Regions from separate parts of the Homo sapiens genome. Here region 2 is linked to region 1. The links come from fine-mapping of genetic effects on gene expression. Tissue or cell type: whole blood. Region 1 holds a variant in brackets; the other region holds the start of a gene. All regions are shown on one strand. Distances are from middle to middle.

Evidence for each region. PIP is the estimated chance that this variant, and not a neighbour inherited with it, causes the effect.
Region 2: it holds the start of BAIAP2-DT, and the variant in region 1 is fine-mapped to the expression of BAIAP2-DT in whole blood (INTERVAL, PIP above 0.99).

The regions. Positions count from the first base shown.
Region 1 is chr17:80,993,567-81,008,513 of GRCh38, forward strand. CHMP6 (charged multivesicular body protein 6) reads left to right here. Exons shown (of 8, transcript NM_024591.5): 2 at 1,015-1,124; 3 at 1,453-1,540; 4 at 2,106-2,192; 5 at 3,441-3,506; 6 at 3,695-3,775; 7 at 4,800-4,854; 8 at 5,532-6,567. The coding sequence ends at 5,587. LOC124904077 (translation initiation factor IF-2-like) reads left to right here and starts at 8,550. Exons shown (of 1, transcript XM_047437254.1): 1 at 8,550-14,947. The coding sequence starts at 10,693. The coding sequence ends at 11,163. The variant C/T (reference allele first, on the strand shown) is at 3,133.
Region 2 is chr17:81,023,848-81,038,794 of GRCh38, forward strand. It overlaps BAIAP2-DT (BAIAP2 divergent transcript), which reads right to left and starts at 10,872. Exons shown (of 2, transcript NR_026857.1): 1 at 10,718-10,872; 2 at 5,286-9,551. BAIAP2 (BAR/IMD domain containing adaptor protein 2) reads left to right here and starts at 11,304. Exons shown (of 14, transcript NM_001144888.2): 1 at 11,304-11,461. The coding sequence starts at 11,408. RefSeq lists enhancers at 15-74, 6,669-7,277, 7,278-7,885, 11,121-12,116, 13,167-13,719 and a silencer at 10,940-11,249.

The DNA.
Region 1 (14,947 bases):
GAGCTAATTCTCCTCAGCCTCCTGCCTTAAGGCCATAATCCCTGTGCCTGCACGGGCTCAGCATTGTCTGAAGTGATGACGTTTGGAAAACTTAAGGACCTGATAGAGCAGGACTGGCTGAAGTTCCTCAGTGGCCGAGTGCCCTCTCTGGGACGGCACACAGATGAGAGGCGGTCAGCGGGGCCGAGTGGGTGTCCCTGCAGCCGGATGGTTGGCAAAGGGGCAGGGAAGCCACAGGCATCTCATGCGGCTGAAGCGCAAGGAGAGAAGCCGGGGGGATGTCTGAGCCCTGTCCTGGCCGTGTGGCTGGTGGCACTTGGGTACTCGCCACCTGCATGTTCTTGAGTCGGAACTTTTTTTTTTTGAGATGGAGTCTCACTCTGTCACCCAGGCTGGAACACAGTGGCATACTCTCGGCTCACTGCAAGCTCTGCCTCCCGGGTTCACGCTGTTCTCCTGCCTCAGCCTCCCAGGTAGCTGGGACTACAGGCACCGCCACCACACCCGGCTAATATTTTTATGTATTTTTAGTAGAGACGGGGTTTCACCATGTTAGCCAGGATGGTCTCGATCTCCTGACCTCGTGCTCCGCCCGCCTCGGCCTCCCAAAGTGCTGGGATTACAGGCGTGAGCCACTGCGCCCAGCCGAGTCCAAACCTTTGAGGTCCTGGCAGCTGCTCCCTGACCTGAGCCTAGAGTGCTTGTACCGCTGGCAGGCAGCCTCGAGGGTGGACCCACAGCAATGCCACGGTGGTCTTCCCCATCCCTGTGATGGGCTGTGGAGTCCGGGTGACCCTCTGGTGGGGCCGCCTCTTGTGTGGCAGGATGTGGAGCTGAGTCCCTGGCTTCCACCCCCAGACGTGTCCAGACAGCACCACCTGTCCCCTGGAAGGCAACCCTGCCCCATGAAGGACACTCACGGAGGGCCGCCCGGCCTCCATGCCTGGCGCTCAGTAGCGTGGCCAGGGCTCCCAGTGTGGGCTCGGTGACGCCAGGCCCTCTCTCTCTTGGCAGCAACTGAAGCAGCAGCGGGACAAGCTGAGGCAGTACCAGAAGAGGATCGCCCAGCAGCTGGAGCGCGAGCGCGCCCTGGCCCGGCAGCTGCTGCGGGACGGCAGGAAGGAGTGAGTGGGGCCCGGGCAGCGTGGGCACCCTGTCGGCTGGGGTGGGGGGCCCGGGCAGCGTGGGCACCCTGTCGGCTGGGGTGGGGGGCCCGGGCAGCGTGGGCACCCTGTCGGCTGGGGTGGGGGGCCCGGGCAGCGTGGGCACCCTGTCGGCTGGGGTGGGGGGCCCGGGCAGCGTGGGCACCCTGTCGGCTGGGGTGGGGGGCCCGGGCAGCGTGGGCACCCTGTCGGCTGGGGTGGGGGGCCCGGGCAGCGTGGGCACCCTGTCGGCTGGGGTGGGGGGCCCAGGCAGGGCCACAGCGGGTCACTCTCGGGCTTCCCTCTGCAGACGGGCCAAGCTGCTGCTCAAGAAGAAGCGATACCAGGAGCAGCTCCTGGACAGGACGGAGAACCAGATCAGCAGCCTGGAGGCCATGGTAGGCGGCCGGGTGCTTCGCCCTGGAGTGCAGGTGCAGCTGGAGGCAGCTCCGCCCGGCTGCGTGGACATCAGAAATTTCTCCCGAGAGCTGAAAGCTCCTCTCAGATGCCTCGGGCTGAAGCTGACCTGAAGAGGGGCGGGCCTGGAATCCCGGGGAGTCTGCCAGGAAGCTAATGGTCTTAAGAGGCTGGGGGGCAGGTTGGCTCTCGCAGGACTGAGGTGGGGAAGGTTGGGCCACCCCTGGGTGGTGTGGGTAGGTCAGGGGTCTGCATGGGGACTGAGTGTCCCTGGTGTTAGGGACCCGAGCGGCGTGGTTCTGCTCTTTGGTAACCAGAGCTACTAACAAGCAACCAGCGGTCCCCTGAGTGTGTCCCTGGCACCTGCTCAGTCCTGCGCATCCCCACCTGGCAGTGGGAGAGGACAGGGAGGAGCAGGTGTCAGGAGTCACCCTCACGCCCAGCAGCACCCGCCCAGCAAGGGTGTCATCCTGAACCCTGCCCCAGGGCCGGGAGGAGGGCACCCCGGATCCTCAGCACCTGCGTCTGCTCTGGTTTCCTTTTCAGGTTCAGAGTATTGAGTTCACCCAGATCGAAATGAAAGTGATGGAGGGGCTGCAGTTTGGAAATGAGTGTCTGAACAAGATGCACCAGGTGAGTCTCTGCAGGGCCAGGGGCATGGAGGTGTGGGGAGCCCATTGGGCTGGAGCTGGGGATAGGGCGGGGGGCTTGTCCCACGGTGTTCGTGTCAGACACAGGGCAAGAGGCTGGCAGGGGAGATGTGTTGGGTGCTGCCAGGCAGGCAGGGATGCAGTGACCGGGTGCAGCACAGGCTGGGAACTGTGGGAACTGGGTCCCCAGGCGCCGAAGTGACATAGAAGGGAAGTCTGAGGGTGGGGAGGGGGCTGGCAAACTAATCACAGAAGGCTTCCTGGAGGTGGCGGGTGTGGTGGCTCACACCTGTAATCACTTTTGGAGGCCAAGGCAGGCAGATCACCTGAGGTCAGGAGTTCGAGACCAGCCTGGCCAACATGGTGAAACCCTGTCTCTACTAATAATACAAAAATGAGCCAGGCGTGGTGGCAGGCACCTGTAAACCCAGCTACTCAAGAGGCTGAGGCAGGAGAATCTCTTGAACCGGGAGGCAGAGGTTGCAGTGAGATGAGATTGCGCCACTGCACTCCAGCCTGGATGATAAGAGCAAAACTCCGTCTCAGGAAAAAAAAAAAAGAAGGCTTCCTGGAGGAGGTGAATACCGGCCTCATCTCAGGCCGGGCATGGATGTGAAGCCCAGCGTGGCCATACCACGTTCCCCCACCAACCCCATCACACTCCTGACATGGGGGCCAGTAGGTGGGGCTAGTTGGAGAGCCAGGGACTCACCTGGCGGGAGGTCTGGCTGTGCTACTTTTCCAAGTGTTTGGTGAGTACTGGTGGTGTGTGCCGGTCAAGCACAAGTGGCCCTTTGACCTTTTGCCACTCAAAAGAAATCAAGTCACCTGCCCAGAATGTTCTACCTGTTGCTTGTTTTTACTGGCGGCTGTGAGAGCTGACTCAGGGTGAGAGGGGGCATCGGGCGCCAGGGCAGTGCAGT[C/T]GTGGCCTCTGAAAAGACTCATCAAACGGCCCCTGTGGCCTCAGGACAGGCCCATGCCTGGGACACACATGTCCTGGCCTCATTTAAACAGGGACAGGAGCTGGGTGTGGTGGCATGCACCTGTAGTCCCAGCTACTTGGACGGATCGCTTGAGCCCAGCCTGGGCAACACAGCCAGACCTTGTCTTTAAAAATAAATAAAAATAAACAGAGGGGTGAGGCCATGGCCCTGAGAGCCCAGGAGGCCTCTGTCGGGGGTCTACCATTGGCCTCGCGACAGGGGTCAACACCCATCACCCTCGTCCACAGGTGATGTCCATTGAAGAGGTGGAGAGGATCCTGGACGAGACGCAGGAGGCCGTGGAGTACCAGCGGGTAGGTGGCACCCTGACCGGCCTGCCCCCAACTGTGAGAACCCACAAGGCCACCCTCGAGGGCCAAACTGTCCCACATCCTAGAGCGGCCGCCTTCTCTCAAGGGGACGAGACCCAGCCACAGGCCATCTCCTTCCTCCCTGAGGGGCCACCTCCTCGCTGCTCTCACCACCGCCTGTCCTTTTGCAGCAAATAGACGAGCTCCTGGCAGGAAGCTTCACTCAGGAGGATGAAGACGCCATCCTGGAGGAGCTGAGCGCAATCACTCAGGTAACGGCCCCCCCGGGACTGAGCACAGTCACTCAGGCAGCGGGACCCCCAGAGCTCAGACCCCCAGGAGGCCCTGCCCATGGTGATCTCGTATGTGGTGTCCTTTAAGTAAATAGTCTGCGGTTTGTGACTGGTTTTCCTACCTGAGGTGACTCTGTTTTCAGGGTTGCTCACCCAACGGTCTGGTGCAGGCAGGCTGGCCCCGTGCCCTGGACAGAGCGGGGGTGCTGGGCCTTCCTGGCGCCTCGGCCCCTTTCTGTCCCCGGCTGTCACGGATGTGGTGCTGGCTTTCCCCAGCCGTGGCTGCTGACTCACGTCCCACATAGGCCCTCGCTGCGGGGGCCGCGTCCTGGCCCCAGGCTCACATCCAGGCTCTGAGTCTGTATTCACTCCCCGACACAGGGGTTGTCCTCTCTGTGGGCCCCTGCCTCAGTCCGCCAAATTCTCATGGTGCCCCCAGAGCCGGCCTCTGCCCCAGCCCTGCTGCCAGCTGCCCCGGCGCCCTGGTGCTGTGCGGCCCATGGTGCCTGCACCCACTTGCTTGTCCAGTTACTTTCTCCTGAGGGTCCGAGTCCTCCGGGGCCTCCAGGGAAGGCCAGCTGAGAGGCAGAAGCACCCGTGCTGGCTTAGGCAGCCAAGCTCGCTGGGACAGCGTTGTACCGCAGCCCACCCCGCAGTGGTGGACACCAGCGTGACCTGGGTGTCTGTGTCACCCACCCCTCGGTCCCTGAGAGCCAGGGTCTCTGGGGCACACCCAGGACGTCGCCTCCTTACAGCCCCTCAGCGCCCCAGGGTCTGTTGGGAGGAGCCTCCATGGTAGCGGCTGCGTCACCACCTAGGGGATTCTGGTGGCACCAGAAGCCGGGGCGGTTGCAGACTTGGGTCTTCTGAGCAGCACGTTCCTGTCCGCTTTAACTCCGGCTGAGAGCGGCTGACGGACAGGATCCGTGTCCTCTCGGGGAGGCCCAGGCAGCCCGGGGCAGACCTGTCACCTGCTCATAGCCTTACCCTTTGCTTCTTGCAGGAACAAATAGAGCTGCCAGAGGTTCCCTCCGAGCCCCTTCCTGAGAAGATCCCAGGTATTTCCATGTTTGATTCTTTTGAATGGTTGGAATTCGCAGGAGAAAAGTGGATTCTAGAAGGGAACAAGACAGAATGCTCCCAGGCCTTCCTGGGCCGTGGGCAAGCCCTGCTGCCTGGCTGTTTGGCTTGGGGGCGTGCGTGCCTGGCCTTGGGGTTGGGCTTGGGTTTCCCAGGGGTTCGGTAACTGGGCAACCTCATAAGAGAGCCATACCCCATTCAAAGAGACACATTCAGAAATCAGAACTGGGGAAAGGCTTCTTTAGCAGCACCAGCTCATTCCCAGGGTGTAGCCCAGGATTAGCCCTCAGCCAGGGATGGCTCTCCCCGTGGCACCATTCAGCACAGGCTCTCCAACCTGCCCACTGGGAAGCTGACTTTAGAACCGTCCATCCACGTTTGTTCTGTTCCTTTACCCATCTTTGGGGCTCTTCTCCTCTCTGAGTCCCGCTGGGAGGGGCTGTGCTTTCCTGGCCCACTGTCCCGTGTCCCTGGCCCTGTCTGTCAGCCCCATTGGCTTCCTGTTTGTCACTTGCCTCCCCCAGAGCTGGGCGTGCCCTTCCCTAGTGCGAAGTCCCCGGAACTGGCCCTTGCCACCCCTGTGGCCTCGTCCCTCTCTGGAGGTCTCTGCCTGTGGGTCTTTGGCGTGTCATAAACATCTCTGTTTCCTCCACAGAAAACGTCCCTGTCAAGGCCAGGCCCAGGCAGGCGGAGCTGGTGGCAGCTTCGTAACGTGGCCTCGTCTTGTGGGACTCACGGGGATGCCCCAGGGACTGTGGCCCACAGAGAGTTTGGGTCACGGCCAGCCCCTGACCGGGTTCCCTGGAGCCCAGTGCGCACGGTGCTGAGCAGAGCTGCAGCCACGCAGGCGCATTGCAGGAGGACTCCAGAGCGTCTCCTGGAGACCTTGAGCCTGAACGCACTCAGGCGCCACTGGCCTGCTCTCAGTCCGGATTAACTCTCGACCGAGCCCAGCTTCTGCCGGTTGTGGGCTCCCCCGGTGGCCGAGGCCCAGGCCCAACGCCTCTGGTGCTGTTCCCCTGCAGTCCCAGCCCCGCGTGGCTCGCGCTCGTCTGTGAGGAAGACACCTCCAGACCTTGGGGTCCCCGCGCTTCCTCTTGCTCCTCGCTGCTCCCATTAGCTGGTGCAGGCTTCCGTTAAGGGGTCCCTCCCTTGGCCTGGCTTCCCGGCGCACCTCAGCTTCCCTGCTGGTGGGGGGATCCCCAGGAGACCAGCATGTGCTGAACCTCTCTGTGCCTCTGCCTCCGCACCCTAGACACCCACCTCCAGTTTGAAGGTGGCGGGCCAGGGGCTTTCTTGCTGAATTGACGACTCCGAGAGCCCTGACTCCCGCCTTGCCACTCACGGCTCTGTCCACTAGGGCTCAGCCCTGCTGAGAAAGGACCTCCGATGCTTGGGAGACGCTGCTCCGGCAGGTGCAGCCCCGGAAGTTTGTCCATGGGGGTCCCCGCGGCTGGGGCTCATGGAACTGCGAGACCCGGGACCCTCCTGCCCTGCGGGTCCCCGAGCCACCAGCAGCCAGGACTGGAGGCTGTGGGGCATGGCGTGACTTCTCGTGCACAGGGCTGGTTTGGTTATGAGACGATCTCGCTGGGACCGCCCCTGCCCGTGGAAAGCCACAAGGACAAAGGGAGCGGCCACCTCGACCCCCAGACAGGCCGGCCCGTATTAAAGTTGGCCCTGCACGCCCACTGCCTCGTGGACTTGGGCGCAGTGGGCACCTAGGCGTGGCTCCCTCTGTGGGAGCGTGGGTGGGTTGTGTGCGGCCCCTCCCCCACGGTGACCCTGACCAAAGCCCAGCCCCTTGACCAGCATGGGGACGCTCACTGGAGGGCTCCTGCCCAGTCCGGCCAGGCCTGGGCTCTGCACACGTGAGATGGAAGCTCTGGGCCCTGACGGCCACCTCTGGGCAGCTGCCCTCCATGGGGGCCAGGGTGCTGCTCTGAGCAGGCTGGCAGGCTGTCTCCCTCGCGTGGCTGTGTGTAATCCTGGGCCCAGAGGGTGGTGGGTTTGGGGTCCTGGTGCCCAGGCGGGAATCTTGATGTGCAGGGAACACGATGGGCAGGTGACCCCCAAGGGGTGGCTCCACACCCCGCACCGGTGGGCATGGGGGTGCTGGCCCTGCACTGCCGGGTCTCAGGACTGAAGAAGCTGAAGACCTGGGTTTGGGGGAAAGTCTTGTTTCTCCCCGTGGCGGCAGCTCTCCTGCGGTGCACGTGTCAGCTGGGGTTGAGGGGGTCTTCCAACCACCCTTGCAGGGATTCTGCAGAAAACTAGTTGGCTGGCGCTCCCCCTGTCTGTCCCCAGGACTGCCAGGCAGCCTGGAGGGCACCTCGTGATGAGGCTCCAGCCCCATGACCTGCTCCCTGCAGCAGTGCGTCCCAGGCCTGTGGAGCACCGGCTCTGGGTCCCAAACTGCACGCAGGGTGCCAGGAGCCTGCGTTGGGAAGCTGCAGGTGTGGCTGGAGGGGCCCTGGCTACTGTCAGTCCCAGGCCTCAGTCACAGCCTTTACACACCCTGCCTGTGGGGCAGGTCCCTCCTTTCCCTCTGCCTCCATTAGAACCCAGGGGCTTTTGCCAAGAGAGGCCGGGTGTTCTGGCGGCATTTTGTGGCAGGACTTTGCTCTCAGCCCCAACCGGAGCAGCTGTCCACAGTGCCCTCCCCCTTGTGCCAAGTTCCTGGTCAGGGCCCAGGAGGCCATCCAGGGAACGCCAATAACCATCCATCCCTGCTACAGCACAGCCAGGAGTGGGGTGGGGTCCACGTTCCCTCTGACTATCCAAGAAGTTAGAGCCTGACTACTACTCAGCCGTGTTCTGTGTACCAGTGTTCCTCCCTGGACCTCGCAAGAGTCTGCCCGGACAACCCAGAGTGACCTTGAGCTGATTCCCAACTCTGGCATTGGTGTGTCCTGGCTGGCCGGCTCCTGGTTATGTCGGGCTGGTGGCAGCCCCTCCTGCCAGCAAGGTACAGAGCCCAGTGCTGGCCGGAGCCTGACCAACCTGATCTCCTAATCTAGGTTGGGGACACAGGAGCATGACAATCACAAGTCAAAATTAGGTGTGGAACCTCAGGGCGGAGCTGGTGTCCTGCCAGAGATGCCTGGGGGCCGGCGGGAGGACTTGGAGGAGGAGAGGCTGCAGAGGGCAGGGACACAGAGTAGGGGGCCACACAAAGGGTGGCTCAGAGTGGAGGAGGGGCATAAAGGAAGAGCCATACATAATCAGCAGCTTTGAAGGGTGTTGGAGCCTGCCAGCCACAGAGGACTTCCCAGGGAGGGAATGGGGCATAGTGTGGAAGTGGTGCCCTCATTTTCAGAGGCTGCAGACACTTCGCTGGAAGGCACACTTGCCACGGGGCAGGCAGTGTGGCAGTCAGAAATGTGTGGGATGGAATGGGCGCGGTGGCTCACGCCTGTAATCCCAGCACTTTGGGAGGCCGAGGCGGGCGGATCATGATGTCAAGAGATTGAGACCATCCTGGCCAACTTGACGAAACCCCGTCTCTACTAAAAATACAAAAATTAGCTGGGCATGGTGGAACGCACCTGTAGTCCCAGCTACTCGGGAGGCTGAGGCAGGAGAATCGCTTGAACCTGGGAGGCGGAGGTTACAGTGAGCAGAGATCATGCCACTGCACTCCAGCCTGGCAACAGAGCGAGACTCTTTCAAAAAAGAAATGCGTGGGACAGAATGGCGGGTCCATCCTGGACGGGATGGGGCCCCTGACCCCTGTGTGCCTGCGCTCTGCCAGCTCCTGCGCAGAGCAGGTACTCGGGGGAGGGAGGATGGTTTGCTCCAAACTCAGGTCCCAACTGGTGTCTGACTTGGCCGCAGAATCCTTTGGGTCCTGGTTTCTTCATACATGCAATATTGGGGGTTTGGCCTTGGGGGTCTCTTCCAGCTGAGTCCACTTCTGTCCCCAGCCTGTAAACTGTCTGCACCTATTGACTCTTGATGGTCTCTGAGGGACTCAACTTTAGGAACTCTGTCCGTTTTGTGCTGCTGTCACAGAGTGCTTGAGACTGGGTAATTTATAATGAACAATCAACTGGCTCACGGTACTGGACAGGTGCCAGCATCTGGCGAGGGCCGTCCAGCTGCGTCATCACATGGTGGAAGGCAGGAGGGGAGCCACCCCACCCTTTTATAACCAATCCCAGCCGTTAGGGCGCAGCCTTCATGGCCTAACCACCCTCTGAAGGTCCCACTCGATACTGTTAAAAGGCAATGAAATTTCAACAGGTTTTGGAGGGGACAAACATTCAAACCATGGCAGAAAGTGTGGAAGGAGCAATAACCACACTGAACAGAATGACCATGGTAATTAAACCCCAAGTGAAACCATGACCTGTTTTACATCATCCTGGAGAGAACAGTGCAGCTCCAGTACTTGCTGAGCTGCAGAGACAGGGTCCATCCAACTCGACAGCATCCAGCAGCCACTCCAGGCCGCCAGCAGACAGATGTTGGGAGCAGCACTGATAGTTTGGGTTTTCGTTTGTTTTTTTAAGACAGGGTCTCACTTGCCCAGGCTGGAGTGCAGTGGTGTGATTATGGCTCACTGCAGCCTGGAACTCGGGCTCAAGCGATCCTCCCACCTCAGCCTCCTGAGTAGCTGGGACTACAGGTGTGTGCCACCAAATCCAGCTAATTTTTGTTACTTTTTGTAGAGATGGGGTCTCACTATGTTGCCCAGGCTAATAGATTTTTTTAAATGATCATACAGGACGGCTGGGTGCAGTGGTTCACGCCTGTAATCCCAGCACTTTGGGAATCCCAGTACTTTGGGAGGCCGAGGCGGGCAAATCACCTGAGGTCAGGAGTTTGAGACCAGCCTGACCAACATGGAGAAACCCCGTCTCTACTAAAAGTACAAAATTAGCCGGGCGTGGTGGCGCATGTCTGTAATCCCAGCTACTCGGGAAGCTGAGGCAGGAGAATCGCTTGAACCCAGGAAGCGGAGGTTGCAGTGAGCCGAGATCGCGCCACTGCACTCCAACCTGGGCAACAATACAAGACTCCATCTGAAAAAAAAAAGATCACACAGGAAAACAGAAGTTCGATTTTACGTCGTACACTGCTGTAATTTCAGCACATGTGGACTCGTGTAACCAACACCATAACCTTCCATCACCCCTGAAACTCCCTCCCGCCAGCCCTTTAGGGTTGCCCCTCCCCCCGAACCCCACCAGCCCCTGGTGACCACTGATCTGTCCTCCAACCCATAGTGTTTTTCCGGGAATGTCACAAAAACAGAAGCCGACCATGGGTCACCTTTCTGGCGCCTTTCTCCCCGCACAAAGTCTTTGTCCTTGTGAAGTTGTCACGTGCCAAACGCTTGTCCCTTTTTCCTGCTGGGTAATACTCCCGGTGCCGCCCTTGCTGTTCGTCGATGCACATCTGGCTGCTTTTCGCTGGCTGCGAGCGGAGCTGCTAGGGACATGGCCACGGGGCTGTGAGAGCGGAGTTTCCTCTCTCCGGTGACCCTGAGCTGCGCCTTTCTCAGCCGCCTCCCGAGGCCCCAGGCGCTCTGCGGGGGCTCTGGCGGGGTTGGTGGGGGTGGGCGTTCTCGTTGTTTCAGCGGCGCTGCCCCAGGCCCTGCGGGAGGGACCGTGGGACCCGAGACATCCCCGCCTGGCCTCCGCTCCCCACCCGGGAGTGGGGCTCGCACCCCCCCAACCTCGGGTAAAGACGCTTCTGGAAGGAAGGGCGCCCCGCGGACCCCGCCCAACCCTGCCCAGCCCAGCCCAGCCCAGCCCAGCCCTTCCCGGGGCGGCGGCGCGGGAAGCAGGCGGCGGCGCACGGGCGTCGTCATGGCAACCCCACCGGCTCCGGGGGCCGGGACCGCTGCCCCCTCCGCCCCTCGACCCCCGCCCCCCCGCCCTTCCTGGCTGCGGCTGGACCCGGCTGCGCGGGGCGCGAGGCTGCCTTTCCCGGGATCACCAGGGACCACCCGGCGCGCTCCCCGGGAATCCGCACCCCTGGCCCCAGCGCTCCGGAGCGACCCGGGTCAGCCCCTGGCTGCCTGCAATGGGCCCCCGGGCGAACCCCGGGCGGACCCAGGAGTGAGCACCCGGTGCGCGGCAACGATGATCCCGCAAGGGAAGCTCACGGGAGGCAGGAGCTGTGGCAGCCGCCCCAGGATGGGGCGCGGGGAGCGCGCTGAGCTGTCCTTTCCCGCAGCGGCCCCGCGGTTGAAGCGTGGGCTTGGGTTTTGGTTTTTCTTCTGTGGCAACAGTTCTGTTGAGATATTACTCGCCTGCCATACAACTCACCCATTTTAAAAGTACACCTCAGGGGTCCTGCGTGTATTGACAAACCCGCCGCCGTCACCACAGCCAATTTCAGAACATTTTCATCTCTTCAAAAGAAACCCTGTACCCTTCAGCTGTCACCCTCCTGGTCCCCATCCGGTCCTCGTCCCGCCCTCAGCAGCCACGCACTGCCTGTAAAGTCCCCTGTCCTGCCCTGTAGGTGGAATCTATACCTTGGGGTCTGTTCTGACGTTCACCTAACAGCCTTTCCAGGCTCAGCTGTGCTATTGTATGGACCAGGGGGTTGTTTTGTTTTTGTTGTTTGTTGATTGTGTGTGTGTGTGTGTGTGTGTGTGTGTGTGTGTGTGTGAGCCTGGCGTGGTTGCGGGCGCCTATAATCCCAGCTGCTCAGGAGGCTGAGGCAGGAGGATCACTCGAGCTCAGGAGTTTGAGGCTGCAGAGTTGATCATGCCACTGGACTCCATCCTGGGCGACAGAGCAAGACTCTGTCTTTTAAAAAAAAAAACGGGGCTGGGCGCGGTGGCTCACGCCCGTAATCCCAACACTTTGGGAGGCCGAGGCAGGCGAATCACGAGGTCAGGATTTCGAGGCCAGCCTGGCCAACATGGTGAAACCCCGTCTCTACTAAAAATACAAAAATTAGCTGGGCATGGTGGCGGGCGCCTGTAATCCCAGCTACTAGGGAGGCTGAGCCAAGAGAATGGCTTGAATCCGGGAGGCGGAGGCAGAGGTTGCAGTGAGCCGAGATCGTGCCACTGCACTCCAGACTGCAGCCCTGGTGACAGTGCGAGACTCTGTCTCCAAAAAAAAAAAAAAAACAAACAAAAAACAATAAATAACAAGGTCGGCTGAGGTGGCTCACGTCTGTAATCCTAGCACTTTGGGAGGCCGAGGCGGGTGGATTACCTGAGATCAGGAGTTTGAGACCAGCCTGACCAGCATGGAGAAACCCCGTTTCTACTAAAAATACAAAATTAGCCAGGCGTGGTGGCGCATGCCTGTAGTCCCAGCTACTCGGGAGGCTGAGGCAGGAGAATCGCTTGAACCTGGGAGGCAGAGGTTGCAGTGAGCCGAGATCATGCCATTGCACTTGCAGCCTGGGTGACAGAGCAAGACTCTGTCTCAAAAAAAAAAAAAAAAAAAGACTCAAAAAAAAACAAAAATCAGCCAGGCGTGGTGGTGTACACCTGTAGTCCCAGCTACTCTGGAGGCTGAGGCAGGAGAATCGCTTGAACCCATGAGGCAGAGGTTGCAGTGAGCCGAGATTGCGCCACTGCACTCCAGCCTGGCAACAGAGCAAGACTCCGTCTCATATAAAGAAATAAAACAAAAATAAACAAATTTTAAAAACAAACACATTCCTATACAGGTTTCTGTGTGGACAGCGTCTGCTCTTGGGTCTGCACCTGGGAGTGGAATTGCTGGGTTGTGTGGTAACTGGATGTTCACCCATAGGATGAACGACCACACTCTTTTGCACAGTGGCCGATGGTTCTGGTCTCTCTACAGCCTCACCAACTCTTATATTCTTTTTGATTACAGCCACTCTAGCAGGCATGAGGTGGTACGTCATTGTGGCTTTGACCTGCATTTCTCTGGTGTCTAATGGTGTTGAGCATTTTTTCGTGGGTGTTACTGACCATTTGTATATCTTAGAGAAATGTCTATTCAGATAATTTGCCTATTTTTAATTGGGTTCGTTGTCTTTTTATTGAGTTGTAATACTTTATTCGGGATACTAGACCCTTATTAGACACATGATTTGCAAATATTTTCACCCATTCTTTGGGATGTCTTGTTAACCTTTTTGATGGTGTCCCTTGAAGCACAAAAGTTTTTAATTTTGATGAAATCTAATTTATTTTTGTTGTTGTTCCTTGTGCTTTTGGTGTCATAGCTAAGGAACCCCTGCTTAATCCAAGATCATGAAGATTTGTGTCTATGATTTCTTAACAGTTTTATAGTTTATTTATATTTATATAAATATGTTTTTGAGACAGGGTCTCACTCTGTTGGCGAGGCTGGTCTTGAACTCCTGACCTCAGGTGATCTGCCTGGCTCAGCCTCCCAAAGTGCTGGGATTGCAGCCGTGAGCCACCGCGCCCGGCTTGACTTCTTCCTTTTATATGTGGGTATTTTTCTGTCCCAGCGTCATTTGTTAAAAAGACAGTCCTTTCTCCGTGTAATTGTTTTGGCACCGTGTGGAAACCCGCTGCCTGTAGCCAGGAGCTTCTTTCCAGCCCTCAGTTCTGTCCCATTGCTCTGTGTGTCTATTCTTACGTCCTCATGGCAGCCTTGTAGTAAGCTTTGAAATTGGGAAGTGTGAGTTCTCCAACTTTGTTCTTCTTTTTCAAGATTGTTTTGGCTATTCTGGGACCCTCAAATTTCCATGTGAATTTTTAGGATAAGCTTTTCAGTTTCTGCGGAGGAGCCAAGTGAGATGTTGATAGGAGTTGCGTAGAATCTGTGGATGTGTTTGGAGAGTGCCGCCGTCTCCGCTACATTAAGTCCAGATCCGTGGATTGAGGGTGCCTTTCCATTTATTTTGGTCTTCTTTACTTTCTTTCAACCAAGTTTTGTAGTTTTCAGAGTATAAATTTTATACTTGTTTTGTTCAGCCTATTACTGTTTTATTTTTGGTGCTATTGTAAATGAAATCTTCTTAATTTCAATTTCAGATTATTCACTTAAATATACAGAAATACAGCTGATTTTGTATATTGAGCTTGTCTCCTGCAATGTTGCTGAACTTGTTTATTAGGGTTTTTTTAAGTGAAATCCTTAGGACTTTTTATATACAAGATGAGGTCACTTGTAAAGAGAGATAGTTTACCTCTTAATTTCCAACCTGGATGCCTTTAATTTCATTTCCTTCTCTAAGTGCCTGGTTAAAGCTTCAGTACAATGTTGATTAGAAGTGGGTATCTTAGGCTGGGCGCGGTGGCTAACACCTGTAATCCCAGCACTTTGGGAGGCCGAGGCGGGAGGATCACGAGGTCAGGAGATCGAGACCATCCTGGCTAACAAGGTGAAACCCCGTCTCTACTAAAAATACAAAAATTAGCCGGGCGTGGTGGCGGGCACCTGTAGTCCCAGCTACTCGGGAGGCTGAGGCAGAAGAATGGCGTGAACCCGGGAGGCATGGTGGTGCATGCCTATAGTCCTAGCTACTTGGGAGGTTGAGGTGGGAGGATCATTTCAGCCCAGAAAACGGAGGCTGCAGTAAGCCATGATCGTGCCACTGCACTCCAGCCTGGGAGACAGAGCAAGACCCTGTCTCAAAAAAAGAAAAACTGTTCTGAAGCACAGTGTAGTCTAGTACTGTGGCATTCCCACCTGTATTCCTGCTTGTTCCATTTACTTGAGAAACATTTTTTTCATAAATAATATGAAAACATATCCATCCCAGTTTCTGTACATTAATTCCAGACTAAGAGCATTTAACCTGAGTTTAGTGGTAGATTTAAGGACACTCATGAGAAAAACCTCCATTTATACAAGAGGAACAGGACCCTTCCTTATCTCGAGGATGATGTCCCGCAGGAGACGCCTGCTCTCCTCCAGACAGGCTCTAGGGCTGTTCATCTGACCTGCCTTGGAATGTCTCACGTGGCTGCGACGCCAGCCTTTCAATCGTCTCCCATGGATGAAGCCATCGTGGGTGTGTCTTTGGTATGTGTCTCTGTTGCTTGGTCTGCCCTCTTTTTTTTGAGACGGAGCCTCACTCTGTCACCCAGGCTGGAGTGCAATGGCCCAATCTCAGCTCACTGTAACCTCCGCCTCCTGGGTTCAA
Region 2 (14,947 bases), 30 kb after region 1:
TGTCCCTGATGTCACACCCCACTTGCTGTGGCCTCTCTATGCTGGTCTCCACAATGCTCAGCCGTCTTCGTCCGGGACACTGCACCCCTTCCGCCGCGCAGCCCACCAGCTACCACTCCCAGGCTGTCCACCAGGTGGCAGTGAAGGTCACCGATGTCAAGTTCGTGGCTCACCCTCCCAGCCCTGCACCCACCCTGGCTGCAGCAGAGTGGTGGGGGCCCAAGGAGCCCTCCAACCTCGTCAGGCCAGGGGGCTGGGATGCCAGGGACCACTTCTCCTGCACAGCAAAGCTTATTATAAAATCCAAATGCGGCTGGGCGTGGTGGCTCACGCCTGTAATCCCAGCACTTTGGGAGGCCGAGTTGGGCAGATCGCCTGGGGTCAGGAGTTCAAGACCAGCCTGGCCAACATGGTGAAACGCCGCCTCTACTAAAAATACAAAAATTAGCTGTGTGTGGTGGCGGGCACCTGTAATCCCAGCTACTTGGGAGGCCGAGGCAGGGGAATCGCTTGAACCTGGGAGGCAAAGGTTGCAGTGAGCCAAGATCGTGCCACTGCATTCTAGCGTGGGCGACAGAGCAAGACTGTCTCTCAAAATAAATAAATAAATAAAAATATATAAAACCCAAATGCAGCCAACACCGTGGCTCATGCCTGTAATCCCAGCATGATGGGAGGCCAAGGAAGGCAGATCACTTAAGTCCAGGAGTTTGAGACCAGCCTGGGCAACATAGCGAGACCCCATCTCTACAAAAACACAAAACCTAGCCAGGCGTGGTGGCGCGCATCTGTAGTCCCAACTACTCAGGAGACTGAGGTGGGAAGATCCCTTGAACCCAAGAGTTCAAGGCTACAGTGATCCAAGATCTAACCACTGTCCTCTAGCCTGAGCGACAGAGAGAGAGCCTGTCTCAAAACAAACAACTCCGGCCGGGTGCAGTGGCTCATGCCTGTAATCCCAGCACTCTGGGAGGCCGAGGCGGGCGGATCACGAGGTCAGGAGATCAAGACCATCCTGGCTCACATGGTGAAACCCCGTCTCTACTAAAAATACAAAAAAATTAGCCAGGCATGGTGGCAGGCGCCTGTAGTCCCAGCTACTCAGGAGGCTGAGGCAGGAGAATCGCTTGAACCCGGGAGACAGAGTTTGCAGTGAGCCAAGATCGTGCCACTGCACTCCAGCCTGGGCGACAGAGCAAGACCCCGTCTCAAAACAAAACAAAACAAAAAACACAACAAAAAAACTCCAAATGCACCTGAGTCCCAAGTCCAGTCTCCCAGGCTTGACGCAACAAGGGCAGGGCCCCTTCCAGCCAAGCTAACCCAGCCTCTCCTCCAGCACCTCCAGCCTTTTGGAGACCCTGCCCTGCCCAAAACCACTTGGAAATCACCAACTCAACTTTCCTTGGAACGCACCAGGGCACTCCAATGACGCCGTGTCCTAGCTGGAGTGCCTCGGCTTTTGCAATCCTGTGCAGAATCAAGGTTTTCCCTTGAGCCAAAGAATGAAGAATTACGGCTGAATCCAACACCACTGGCTCCAGGGCCTCTGAAAGCCGAGTCCTGAGGCCGCACAAAGGACTCTGTTGGCTCCTGCAGCCGCAGAGAAAATCTCAAAATCTGAGTGAGAATTAGCGGCAGATTCCAGGGATCAGCAGCCAGCTCTTCACACCAGCCTCGTCTCTGGGCATTGGAGCCACGCCGGCAAAGGTCACGTGCAGCCAGTTGGACGAGGGGTAAAATGCCACCCGAATCTGTTTAGAGTAATTGTTTTCCCCCAGTGGATGGAATATTCTTTTCATCTGGGCAGCTAGGAAACAGCTAAAGTTTTCCATGAACCTCTACAAAGATTTCTGTGTCTTCCAACTTTGTGAGAAGAAAAAGAACTTGCTGGGGGAAATGATATTCTCGAGCTTAACACTCAAATCATGTTTTCTCGAAATCATGTTACTTTCTGGCCAAGTATGCCGGCGAAGCCACTGAGACACGCTCCGCACATCTTTAGAACATAAAGGCCCTGGCAGTAGCTTGCGGCGCTCTTTGGAAAACTGCTTGGCTCTCACTGGAAACACAGCCACGCCTCCTCTGGGCCCCGGTAGCTCTGGCGTTAAGTCGGCTGGAGACTGGCTTGGCCACGGCCGCCATCTCTAGCCAGCCCTGGGGCAACTGCCCCCGGCTGCGTCCCACCCTGCCCGCCTCCTAGCCCCTAGCCAGAGGCAGCTGTGTGGCTCCGTGGCTGGGCTGGGGCGCTGCGGCTCTGCGCACGATAAGCCAGGGAGCTCCTTCCTTAGCACTACTGGCTCCAGGAGCACCTATTTAGGTAAACTCCATTCCTGCAGGTGTCCTCCCCGCTACACATCCAGCCTGGCCCCTCGGCCAGTTTTGCCTTCACCCTGTGCAGTTCATCAAGACATCCCCCTTTCATCAAAGCTCTTCTAGCACATTCTGAGGCGAGCCATAGAGGGACATGAGGGTAGTTACGTCTCATCAAAGAGAAAGGGACCTCATATTTCTGGAGCACCTACCATGCACACGGGCTGACTGTGGGCTCCCATGGCCGGTGGGACAAAGGGCCCCAGCTGCTGTGTGGTCTGATGCTGTGCAAATGAACATCTGTGCGAGTGGCCACGCTTCCCCATCGGAGCAGCCCTGTCGGGTCAGCGCGGCCAGAAAGCTGCGTTGCACTTCCCCTGTTAGGGTCTAAGGTGGAAGACCCCTTCCAGATGTCCTTGGTTTCTAGATGGACAAGAAGAAATAGCGTGTGGCTCTCAGGTTAGGAGAAGGAAGCAGAGTGCCAGGAAGAGCCGGGAAGGAGGAGGCACCAGGGCACCTGAGGCTGTCACTGTTCCACCTCCGGGGGTACACGTCTGGACCACTCATGACAGGCCCCACTGCATCACGACCCCAGACAGGAGACGGCAGGGCAGCCTCAGACTCCCCTGCCTAAGTTCAACTCCGAGCACCGGGGCAGGCGTGCTTCCTGCATGTCACTGGGGAGGCCATGCTCTCTCTCGTGTATCTGGACTCACGACGTCCACCCGGCTCGTCTGTATTCCGTCTGGGTGGACGTGACACTGGGCTGCTCCACTGGGAAAACACTGACCAGTCATCGGAATGTTTACGGAGACAGTGTCAGGCAGCGGGCCAGGGAAACTCTGTCCTCGAAGTCCCCCACCCTCTAGGCACCTAAGTGGGGTTTTATAGGATCTGCTGCAAGAAGATAAAGTGAGATTTTAGGGCTGAAGACAACATTTCAAAATCTGGCTTTAAATAAACATGGAATAAAAGAGAGAGAGAGAGAGCGCGAGCAAGAGTGAGAGCGCGGAGCCTCCAGCAGCTGAAATTAGAAGCAGCCAGCCCCGGGCAGGGAAGCCATCTGCGCGGCGCCCAGCAGCATGGAGACGTCTGGGTCCTCCCTGACGGCATGCGAAGCGGCACCCGCAGGTACAGCTCTGCTGTCTCCTGTCTGCAGGGACCTGCGGGAACACACTGAGGTCTTGTTTTCCAGGTGTCCTCCAATTTCAGATTCTGAAGAACAGATTCCCTCCGCTCCCATCCAGAAATACCTTTCAGATCACTTTCAAGGCAGTTTAAGTCATTTAAGAAGCAGAGTGATAAGAAAACAAAGACAACGTTTCAGGCGGTAAATGAAGACTAATTATACTGAGCGTTAAGCAAAGTTCGTCTTTCTTCGTCTTTGCTCAGGGAGGTTGAGCCGAGTACGGCCCCCAGTGCCAGGAGGGGCCAGTGCTCAGTGTCCTCACACAGGTCCGTCTTCCTGCTCACCCAGTCACTGGCCACTCTCACCCCATGCTGGGTTCAGAAGATGGCGAGTGGGCCTGGGACTGGGGCGGGCTCCCACTCCTGCCCGGGGTGGTGCTGCGTTGTGGGCACCCGTGTCCCTCCTCCCCCTCCACCCTGCCCAGCTCCAGACGTGTGGCTGAAGCGGCCAGCTCGGCCAGTTCGTCCCGGCGCCACATGTGTCCTTCCTCCGGCCCCAGACCCCAGCCTCACCTGGGCCAGTGCAGGAGAGCCCAGCTACGCTGGGTGCGCTTCAGGCTGTCACCTGCCCGAGTTATTTAAATCCACATTGTCAGCTAATGTATTCTAATAAGCAAGTGGGTGACCGGGCTGGCAGGCTCCGGATGACGCTGACATATAGCAAGGGGGGGAGGAGCACGGAGCGAAACTCTGAGACTCACTTGCGCCCCGGTGCTCACCCCCGCACTGCCTCCCACAGGCACCTGGAGTCACGCCACGCGATGTGAGCTGGATTATATAAGGGGGCTTGTTGCTGGGGAACCTCTCCCCGCCCACCCCCGCCAGGGCAGGCTCTGGAGGGAGGCCACATGTCGTCTGTCCCCACCACCCTCAGAAGGAAGCCCCTCTGGCCTTTCTGGCCTGGTCTGTAGGGAAGCTCTGTCTGTAGGCCGCCTCACTTTGAGGGCTGAGGCTGGACCACGGCAACACAGGGTCAGGAAGGGCCCGAGAGGCCATGCCCACACTCCTCTGCCCATGTGTTGCTCAGAGCAGGCAGGGTCTCCCTGCCTTAGAGACAGTGGCCTCATCCTGTCCTCCAGAACTTCCTCCCCATCACGGGCCACGTACTCTCTGCGAGAGGAGAGAGGGGACATCAGATGCCCGGATGGGCAGCAATGCATCTCCCTGGCTATGGCCAGAAGTCTGGCCAACACTATGGCTGCAGGACAGCCATGAGCCACGCTGGGTTGTGGGCAGCAAACCCAAGGCACCATCTGCCAAGGAGGCCAGGTGAGAACCACGTCTGGGGTGGCAGAAGGGCTGAGCCGTCAGCAGGACCCTCGCGCCTCACAGCCCCAGCTCCACTGCGGGCAGTCCAGCCGCAGCCACAGACGGGGGAGGGGGCGAGGTGGGGGGCGGGCCCACGTGCCTGTCCTCGGGATAAGGGGCCACTCCACAGGGTGCTGGCCCCCTGGGGCTCTCTGTGATCAGCAGCAGCAGACCACAGGGGCAACAGCTCCATCCACTGACCCCAAGGTGGACAGAGTGGGGACCTGGGGGCCAGGACGAGATTCCAGGGTGAGGCACAGGTGACGCCTTCGGACTCCTGCAGGTAAAACTGGAGGCCTGTGCAAGATCACTGCCCATTCCCATGACAACCTTAACTCTAGCACATTTTTCATTCATGCAATTGTTACAAAGATACCGCCACCCCCCCATCCCCCCAGCCCAGTTTTCCCTTTGGTGACATCTTGCATCAGTACATGTGTTTATGATGATCAATGAATCAATGCTGCTACATTATTATTAACTAAAGCCCATACTTTATTCATATTTCCTCAGTTTCCCTCCAATGTCTTCTTTCTCTCCCAGGACCCCACCCAGGATCCCACGTGACATTTAGGGATCAGCTGTCTCCAGGTTCCTCTAGGCTGTGACAGTTTCTCAGACTTTGCTTGGTTGTTTTTTGGTTTTTGGTTTTTTTTATTTTGAGACAGAGTCTCATTCTGTCACCCAGGCCAGAATGCAGTGGCATCATCTCAGCTCACTGCAACCCCCGCCTCCTGGGTTCAAGCAATTCTCCTGCCTCAGCCTCCCGAGTAGCTGGGACTACAGGCGCCTGCCACCACGCCCGGCTAATTTTTGTATTTTTAGAGATGAGATTTCACCATGTTGGCTAGGCTGGTCTCAAACTCCTGACCTTGTGATCTGCCCGCCTCAGCCTTCCAAAGTGCTGGGATTAAGGTGTGAGCCACCGCGCCCAGCCCACTTTCCTTGGTTTTGATGACTTGGGAAGTTTTCAGGAGGGCTGGTCGGTTTTTCTGTAGAGTGTCCCCCTGTTGGGATTTGCCTAATGTTTCTTTTCTTTTCTTTTCGAGACAGGGTCTTGGTTTGTCGCCAAGGCTGGAGTGCAGTGGTGTGATCACAGCTCACTGCAGCCTTGACCTCCTGGGCTCCAGTGATCCTCCCACCTCAGCCTCTAGTGGCTAGGACCACAGGCATGTGCCATCACGCCTGGCTAATTAAAAAAAAAATTTTTTTTGTAGAGATGGGGTCTCACCATGTTGCCCAGACTGCTCTTGAACAATCTTCCCACCTCGGCCTCCCAAAATGCTGCGATTACAGGTGTAAGCCACTGCGCCCGGTCTGCCAGTGTTTTTCTAATACTAAGACAAGGGTTATGGGTCTGGGAGGAAGAGCCCAGTGGTGAAGCGCCCTGTCACATCTGCCCGTGTGACCTCTCGGTGATGGTGCCAGCCTTGACCTCTGGGCTGAGACAGTGGGTCGGGCTCTCCACTGTGGAGACGCCTTGCCTACCTCCCACTCTGTGCTCTCTGGAAGGAAGTCACCATGTGCAGCCCACACAGAAGGGGCACGAGCTGGGGCCCCCTCCCTGTGCCCCTTACTTTTATTTATTTTGAGACGAAGTTTCGCTTGTCGCCCAGGCTGGAGTGCAATGGCACAATCTCGGCTCACTGCAACCTCTACTTCCTGGGTTCAAGCGATCCTCCTACCTCAGCCTCCTGAGTAGCTGGGATTACAGGTGCCCACCACCATGCCTGGCTAATTTTTTGTATTTTCAGCAGAGATGCGGTTTCACCATGTTGGCCAGGCTGGTTTTGAACTCCTGACCCCAGTTGATCTGCCCGCCTCAGCCTCCCAAAGTGTTGTGATTACAGGCGTGAGCCACTGTGCCCGGCCGGGCCCCTTCCTTTTAAATGTCAGCCTCTGGAGTGACCATCTGTGTTGGCTGGGAGCTCTTCGGAATGTCCCATCCAGTTGCTGAGGCTAATGATCACCTCTCAGGTGCGCTGGTCCCATTCTCTGCGCTGTTTATGTCACTTTATGCCTGGACTCCTCCCAACAATGTTCTGTCCTCCACTTAGAGGGTGCTCAGAGAGGCTGTGACACCTGCCCCCAGCAACCAGCCAGTCATCTAGCCCAGTGGCCCCCGGGCCCGCCTATGCCAAATGATGCCCCCTCGGTGCCGCCCACCCCTAAATGCACACCATGCCTGCAGACGTCAGCACTCGCCCTGTCCCACTTGCCCTGGTGGGAAACAGCCTGCAGTGAAAACGTCGCTCTGCCTTTTATGCTGGACAAAGCCGAAGTGTGCTGGAGGTGGCTGAGCCAGGCTTCCCGCGGCAAGGAGCGGGACTCCTGACCCCACAGCCCTGGCTCCCACCCTCGATGTGCTCCTGCCTTTGCCTTCTTGCTGGTAACGCTGCCATTGGTGCTGGTAACGCTGCCATTGGTGAAGAACACGGGAGCCCATCCAGCCCATCCAGGAAGCAAAGAAACGGTGCTCCAGACACCATGCGGATAGCTTCACCCGCCGACCCCGGCCAGGCCCAGCTGCTCCCACAGCACCTGGCATGGAGGGGGAAGTGAGCAAGGGCAGGCGGGGAGAGAAGAGGCTCGCCCTCCTGGCTCTGCCCCAGACACCCGTCCGATAGCACTCCAGTGCCTTCCGGTCTCTCCCGCTCTGGAACTTTCTGGTTACTGATTACAAGTGCTTTAATCCAGGAATGAAAAGGAAGAGGAGTTCTGATTGGGTGGACCCTTCTCTTGGAGAGAAGGCAAAGCTGCCAGGCAGAAGGTGGGAGGGGGAGGAAGAGGAGAGAGGAAGCTCCCTTGACAGGCATAAAACGTCCCTGTGATTGCGGACAAGTGGCTACTCTCAGGCCACATTCAGCCGAGGCTGGGTGAGGCTGGTCGGGAAGAGGGAGACGGAGGTGGAAGCGGGTTCAAGTTTTGACGGGTGGTCACCTCAGAAAGGGCTCCTTCTGTTTAGCAAAACTCCCCAATCCTTCGCCTGGCTTGCCAGGAGAACAGCTTGCTTGAAAAGCAAAGGCTGTCATCCTGTAATTAAATCTGAGACCCCCCCCCATGTGACGTTGAGATGAAGCCACTTACATAACGCGACTAAAAATAAGCTGATGAAGGCTGCACACTTACACTCTCTGCCTCCAGCCCTCCTCTCCCCAGCGGCCCATCGTGCTGGCTGACCCAGGGTCCGCGTCACCGGCTGTGGCGTCGGGTTCCTGTCTGAAGTCACTCTTGCCTCCGGCCCCGCTCGGCGCCCTGTGTGCATGAGGGCCCATCGCTGGTGCCCGGGTTGCAGACCCCTGGCTCAGAGCTGGGGTGCTGAGGATCCCCCAGCCCGCCCAGGCGAGGGTTGACGCTTATGAGAGGAGACCTGCTGGGTACCAGCTCCATCTGCCTCCTTCTCAGTGACTCCTGACGAGCTGCTCATTTACACACACCTGCTCCCACCCCCACCCCACAGTCTGGATTGCGAAACCTACCGCACCCCACCCCCAGTGCAGGAAGAAGGTGACCCTGGTCTGGGGTGGGGACAGAGAGTCTGGGAGGGGGTGGTGGCTGGCAGTCTCGGTGGCTGGCGACGCCTCTTCCGCTCTTCCTTCCTGGGAGGAGGCGGGCAAGGCGAAGCCTCTCCGCTCAGTCGATGGTTTCCTTCAGGACGTCTCATAGAGGTGTGGGTGAGATCCCAGGTCTGGGCCGCAATTTCTAGCCACGCTGCCCAACCTTCAGGCAAGCAGTCAGGTTCCACAGCTACCCCACCACACTCTCAGAGTCGAGGGGAACAAGAAGAGGGAGTGGTCTGTAAATGCGTCGGGACAAGAGTGCCCTCCTAACTCCACCTGGAGCTGGCGTCAGGGCGATCTCTGGATGCCCAGCCCATAAGCCTGGCCTGTCTCTTCCTGGGACCCTTGGTACTCAGCACCCCCAGCCCCCAAGCCCCCTAATACCCTTTAGAAAGGCTTCCCCATCAGTGTGAAAGACCTCACAGGACGCTGGTGAAGGCGAGCACAGAGTGCCTGGGGAACATCCTTGGTGGAGAACTTCCTGGAGGCCACTGGTGCAGGGCAGATGCCAGGCGGGCACCGAGTTTCTTGCCCTTGTTCTGCATTCCTAGGTATGAGGACCTCACCACGTCCTGCTCTGCGCCTGTCATCGGCCGCGGTGTGTCTCCTCAGGTGCCGAGCTGGTCACTTCCATGTACAGCATGGATAACCGTCTTCTCAGGGAAGGCCTCCAGCCCGCATTCAGCCACCTGCCCAGCCGCCGGGCGGAGGGAGCAGGCTCAGGCACCGAGACTGCTGAGCCACTGGCCACCCGGGAAGCAGGCTGCGTTCTGAGTCGGTCACCGAATATGTCCCCCCTTGGACGGGAGTAGCGCAACGATGTGCAGGCCAGCTCAGGAAGTAACGCTGGGAGCTTCTAGAAGGTGGAGCGGGATCCAGGACCGTGGGAGCTTTTCCGGAGAAGCCTACCTCTCCTGTGTTGCAGCTGATGGGAGCAGCAGGGCCTGGAGAAGAACTGTCCCCAGGCTGACTCCCCTCTTGGAGTGAGGAGGCCTCCCGTGTTTGCCTGCCAGCCTCCATCTGTCATCTTGGTTCCAGCCATTCAACTTTCCTCCAGGCGAGCAGAGCTGCTCTACCCCCACCTGCTCCGTGTTGGCCCCAGACCCAACTCAGGCCAGTGGACGTCTGTCCTAGGGCTGCGTGTGAGATCGGTGGGTGCAGGGAACACAGCAGGAAGCTGGCCTAGAAGAAGGGGGTCAGGGTCAGTGGAGATGCTCCTACCTTCAGGTAAATGCCCTCATTTGTTAGGGCCAGTTTGAGCGAGCTTTCTGTCATTTACCACCAAAAGAATCCTAGAAAATAAATACACAGGGATCTACCCCCAAACACTGGAGACAATAAAGAAAAAGGAAGCAGCCAGGGCCAGTAGCTGGAAGGAAATTCAGCCGGAGGAGAGGAGGCGCGGGGCTGTGGTGGGAGGGAGGCAATGCTTCCTGAATCTTACTTCCCTGGTCTTTCCATCGGCCTGAGCCCGTGCCAGTCTGGGGATCTGCCGGCCAGCCAGCACAACTGCGTCTCCCCCAGGGGCCTGACTCGTTGAAGGAATGAATGAATGAATGATTTTGCAGGGATGGGAGGCTGGGAGACTGAGAGGTTTCATTAAACGGAAACGCTCAGATCTGGTGTTTCACAACGTAAAACAAATAATTCCTCTATGTTAGCCTAATTTATGTAAATATTTCTCCACGGGAATTGTACCGGGAGACCTGTGTGCCAACTCGGCCAGCTTCCCCGGCAGAATCTCCCCTTGGGAGGACCCTTAAGCAGGACCCTTCCTAAAAATTGGAGGCAGCTCTGACTCCTCCATTCCTCCTACAAGGTTCCCCCACCCCCTAGGGCTTTCCACCGCATGAGAGTCCTCCGGGCCCCTCGTTTCCTACTGCCCTCGACCCTTCCTTCCCGAGACCTCTCTCTCTCAGTAAACTGCCTCCAACGAGAATCTTCTGACGGCAGGAGGGTCCTCCCCGTCCCTAAGGGTCGCCCTGTCCCCAGGCCTTCCAGCAGGACACTCCCCTGTCCCCTCTCCAGATCCTCCTTCCCAGGGCCCTCCTCCAAGATCCTCTTCCCCAACCCTCCTCTCCCAGGGTCCTCCCCTCTCCAGAATCCCGGCCCCAAGCCCCCAAGCGCTGTCTGCCTGTCTGGGGTCCTCCCCAGAGTTCACCTTCTGCAGGATCCTCCCTCCAAGTCCTCTCCTCACGATGCTCCCCCGAAATCCTCCTTCTCCAAGTCGTCCCCCACTCCAGGGCCGAGCTCTCTCCAGGGTCCTCCTGCAGCACCCCCTCCCCCAGGGTTCTCCTCTCTGCCCCGAGGGGCCGGCCGGGGGGTCGCCGCCCGCCCGGCGGGCTTACCTGCGAAGCGGCGGGGTCGGGGCCTCTCCCACCTGTAAGCCCGGCCCGCGGCGTCCTGCGTCCGAGCCGCTCCCCGCCCCGCAGCGCCAGGCCGCGACCCGGCGGGCCGCCCGCCCCGAAGTGCCACTTCGCGAAGTGCCGCCTCCACGCGCGCTGCCGCCGGCGCCCCCCGCTCTCCTCCCCGCACCTTCTGCTCCTTCTTCCTGCGCCACCCCGCCCCCGCCTCCCCGCCCCCAGCCCGGCTGTTGCCCGGGCCCCCTCAGGCTGCTCCCAGGGCCCCAGCCCGCGCCGCGCCTCCCCTCTCCTCCCCCAGGATCGACGCCGCCGCAGACCAATCGCTGCCTGGAGTCGGCCACTAGGCCCCACCTCCGATCCCGCCCCCCTCCCCCTTCTCCGGAACCCACCAATGGAAAGGGCGGTGCGGGGGCGGGGCCTGGCGGTTGCCTAGCAGCGGCAGCGCCGGGCGGGGGCGGGTGGTCGGGGGCGGTGATGCGGGCGCAACGGGGGCGGGACGCAGGGGCGGGGACTGCCGCGGGGCGGGGCCTGAGGCGGCTATAAAGGTGGCCGCCGCCGGACGCCGGGCTCTGTGGTTCGGGTCCGCTTTCGTCTCCGTCCTGCTGCCGTTACCGCCGCTGCTGCCGCCGCTTGCGTCCCCCGCTCCGGTCTGTGGTGCAGCCGGGACCCAGGACCATGTCTCTGTCTCGCTCAGAGGAGATGCACCGGCTCACGGAAAATGTCTATAAGGTGAGCGCCCCCCGGCGCCGAGCTGAGCCCGCTCCGTGTGCGCCTGGGTCGCGCGCCGCCCGCGCGCCCGAGCCCGACCAGGGCGGCCCCGGGGCCGCGCGCCGGGCCAGGAGGCTGGGACTTTGGGGGTCTTCCCGGCGCGGCCACCCGGGACCCGGGCTGCTGGGGTGGTGAGCCCGGCGCCGGCCGCTCACAGGTGGCCACCCCCGCCCGGGCCCCCCCATCCCATGCGCGCCGCGGCCCGGTCAGTCCCCAGCCCCAGGCCCGGGGAGCACTCCCCGCTCCGACGGCCCTGCTCGGCCCCCGCGCGCTCGCCTTGGCGTCGGCGGGAACGGAGCCGCGCGCCGGGCCCCGGAAGCCCTCGGACCGGTCGGGGTCGTAGCACACCCGGGCAGGGCCGGGGCGGCGGGGGCGGCGGGCCCAGGGGTTGCGGCGGCCAGGACGGCATGGGGGCTGTCTGAAGGCCGCGGTCGGCGCGGTGGCACCGTGGGGCTCCTCCAGGCGCGGTTGCGCGAGCCTCGGGCACTTCATTCTCAACAGGCTTTCCCTTCCCACAACTCCTGCCCGGCGCCCATGCTGGGGCCTAAGGTGGGAGGTCGGAGCGCGGGCAGGCTGGATGGGTGGACGGATAATCTATCATCTTATGTAACCGCGGAGAGAGAAGACTAATTGTGTAGGAGGCTGACGTGCCTGCCTTTGCTTCAGATGTGTTAAGAGTGGCATCCACGTTCTCGTCTGCGAAATGACAGGTTCACATCCAAGGGCCGCAGAGCACCGCTGGAAGCCTCCCCTGCCGCCCCCTCCCCAGTCGTTTTTGTGGCTGGGATACCGACAAACAGGCCCTTGGTTTTCTCTTTCTTCAGCATCCGTTCTCGGTCCAGACCCCCACGCCTGAGCCCGGCAGCTGCCGGGGAGCATTTTCTCAGAGGAGAAACCCCTGCTCTGGGTGTCCCTGGGTCCTGGGCGATCTCTTACAGATGTGCTTTGTTTCAAAACTGTCTGCAGGTTCAGTGACAGGCTGGGCGATGAGTGGAGTGGGTATTTACCCGGCAGTCGCTGGTTCATGTTTCCTAACCGGCTTGCACCCTGCCCGGCAGAGTAACTGTTTCTGATTGTGGTAGGCGGCCAAGGCGTGCCTGGCCAGGGGCCTGGGAAGCCCTCTTAGCTCTCAGGCTTGGGAGAGCCAGATGGAGGCTTCAGGGGTGGCCCCTCTGGTTCCAGCTGGAGTGCAGGGGGCCGATTGCACTTGAATACAGCTTTCAATAAAGCTTGTGAAGTTGGGGCCGCGTCAGTCTGGAAGGTTTCTGAAGGCGGGTGTGCGGTCGACTAGATGAGTCCTAAAGCCACGTCGGAGCCACTGGGAAACAGGATTCAGGGTGACCTGAGGAGTCGGCTTGGGAAAGGCACAGGCCCTGGGGTTGTTAGGTTTGGTTTCACAGAGTCTGTGGCATACGGTTCTGGCCTTGTTGCTCTGTGGAAGCACATGTTGTCAAGGGAGGGAGGTTTATTAAATTATTAGTCATTAGCTCCATTACGACTTGTTTGTGATTGCAGAGGGTGGAAGAGAAGTACCAGCGGAACCTTTTTCCTATTTTTTCTCCTTCTGCGCTGAAACCAGAAAGCAGGAACTTTCGTGGTGAGAGTTGGCAGGGGGTGAGTACATGGAGTGGTTTTGCTCTGGGGGACCGACCCCGTGATCGTCCTTAATAAAACTCTCCTAACCGGGCAGTAGGCCTTCACCTAGGTGAAGCTGTAATTTATCTGCAGGTCTAAGTGAAATCTGCTGGCAGGAAAACTCTTAGGACTGAGTGTTTGGGGACTTTGAGCCCCTGTGGACGCAGACCAGCTGGTCTGGAGCACGTGAAACACACAGGTTCTGCGTTTTGTCTTCCACGGGTGGGTTAATTGGTGATTTTCCCAAGTGAAGATGTGGCGGTTGATGATTTGATTTAGCACGGCAGGACGCGGTGGGCCGCAGGTGTCTGAAGGGTCGATCCACTCTGGAAAGGCTTTGCCCTGGTGACAGGCTTGCGCTGCTGCTGCTGCACACAGGCGGGGTTGGTTTTGTAGGTAGGTGGCTCCTGCTGCCACTCCGGGAGCCTGACTGCTGAGTCTTTGAGACCTTTTTGTGCTTTGTCACTGGGGAGCTCAAGGTGCCTTGGTAGTGCCGGTACTGGTTGGGCAGCTTTTGGCAATGTCAGCCAGGCAGAAACTCAGCCCACATGGAGACATAGTCAGGAGACCGCTGAGGCCACCGGTGTGCACTCCTGGGCCGGTCCAGCCGGTCCAGGCAGTGCTGAGCTCTGTCCTCTCCTGGGACGGTGCTGCCTCTGGCATCCCTTCCCGGGGCCGCTCCTGTGCCTGGGTTGGCGGCTTGCAGAGCCCTGGCAGTGCCTCTTGGAACGGCTGTGCTGTGGCCTGCTTAGTGTCACCCGCGATGCGGCTCAGCTGTTTGGTTTGGTTTGGACATTGCATCGCCTTAACTGCAGTTCTGAGTGGTGTTTGCCTTGGCAAAGGAGGACGCTTGTCCTTGGCCTTGGTGATTAAAAATGCGAGAATAAAAAGTGCAGTTTTGATTTTCTTCCCCGTAAGAATCCGTAACGCAGACTTTGACCTCTTTTCTGGTGGCTCCATTCCCTTGGGAGCTGTGTCCTCGGGGAATTTCATGGAAGATGAAGGGGAGGGGAGTGGAACGGCTTCCCGGTGTTTGCCGAGAACATAATCTCAGACCTTCTGGGGGCACTGCGTGGGCTGGGCCCTGCAGGTGTTGGGAGGGCAAGGCGCGGAAGACCCCTTCCTCCACAGGAGCCCGGGCCCAGCGCTTGCTCAGGTTGCCCTGGGTAGTGGCCCAGATGGAGGGATGGAGTGCTGGAATCTGCCTCCCCCGGTGGCCTTTGGAATTAAGGCTACTGAAGCTGCAGCCCTCTTGGGGAAGCCCCGTGCATCCCTGTGTGCTGAGGGGCTGGCTCCCTGGCTGGCTGTGTCTCCTGGAATGCCAGGAGAATGTCAGGTGGGTGTTTTCCTCAAGGTCTCGTGTCCGCAGAGAAGCCCTGGCTCCCAGGTGACCCATGACCTGGAGTGTGGCGGCTCCACCACCTTCTCTGGGCATAGTGCCATTGGCCCACAGCCTGTCCTAGAATATGTGAGGTTGAGAGAGCATCTGGGGAGGAGGAGGAGTCCCTGTTGCAGACGTGGCCATGGCCTTCCTTGTGCCGAGGCTCTTGGCCCTGGCTGGTCACTCTAGCAGCTGGTGGGGAAGCCAGCCTGGCGGGGCCGCAGCCGTGCTTCGAGGAGACGGGTGCCACAGGGTTCCTGGAGCCAGGAGCCAGTTGGGTTTGCCGCCTCTGGTGTGATTGGTAAGGGCTGGCGCCAGGTGGTGGGCGTCATGTGCTGGGTGGCAGGGAGCACACTGCCGGCTTTTCTGCTCCGTGCCCGGCTGCCCGGGCCTGGCTGTTCCTCTCTGCCACATCCAGCTTCTTCCTGGGG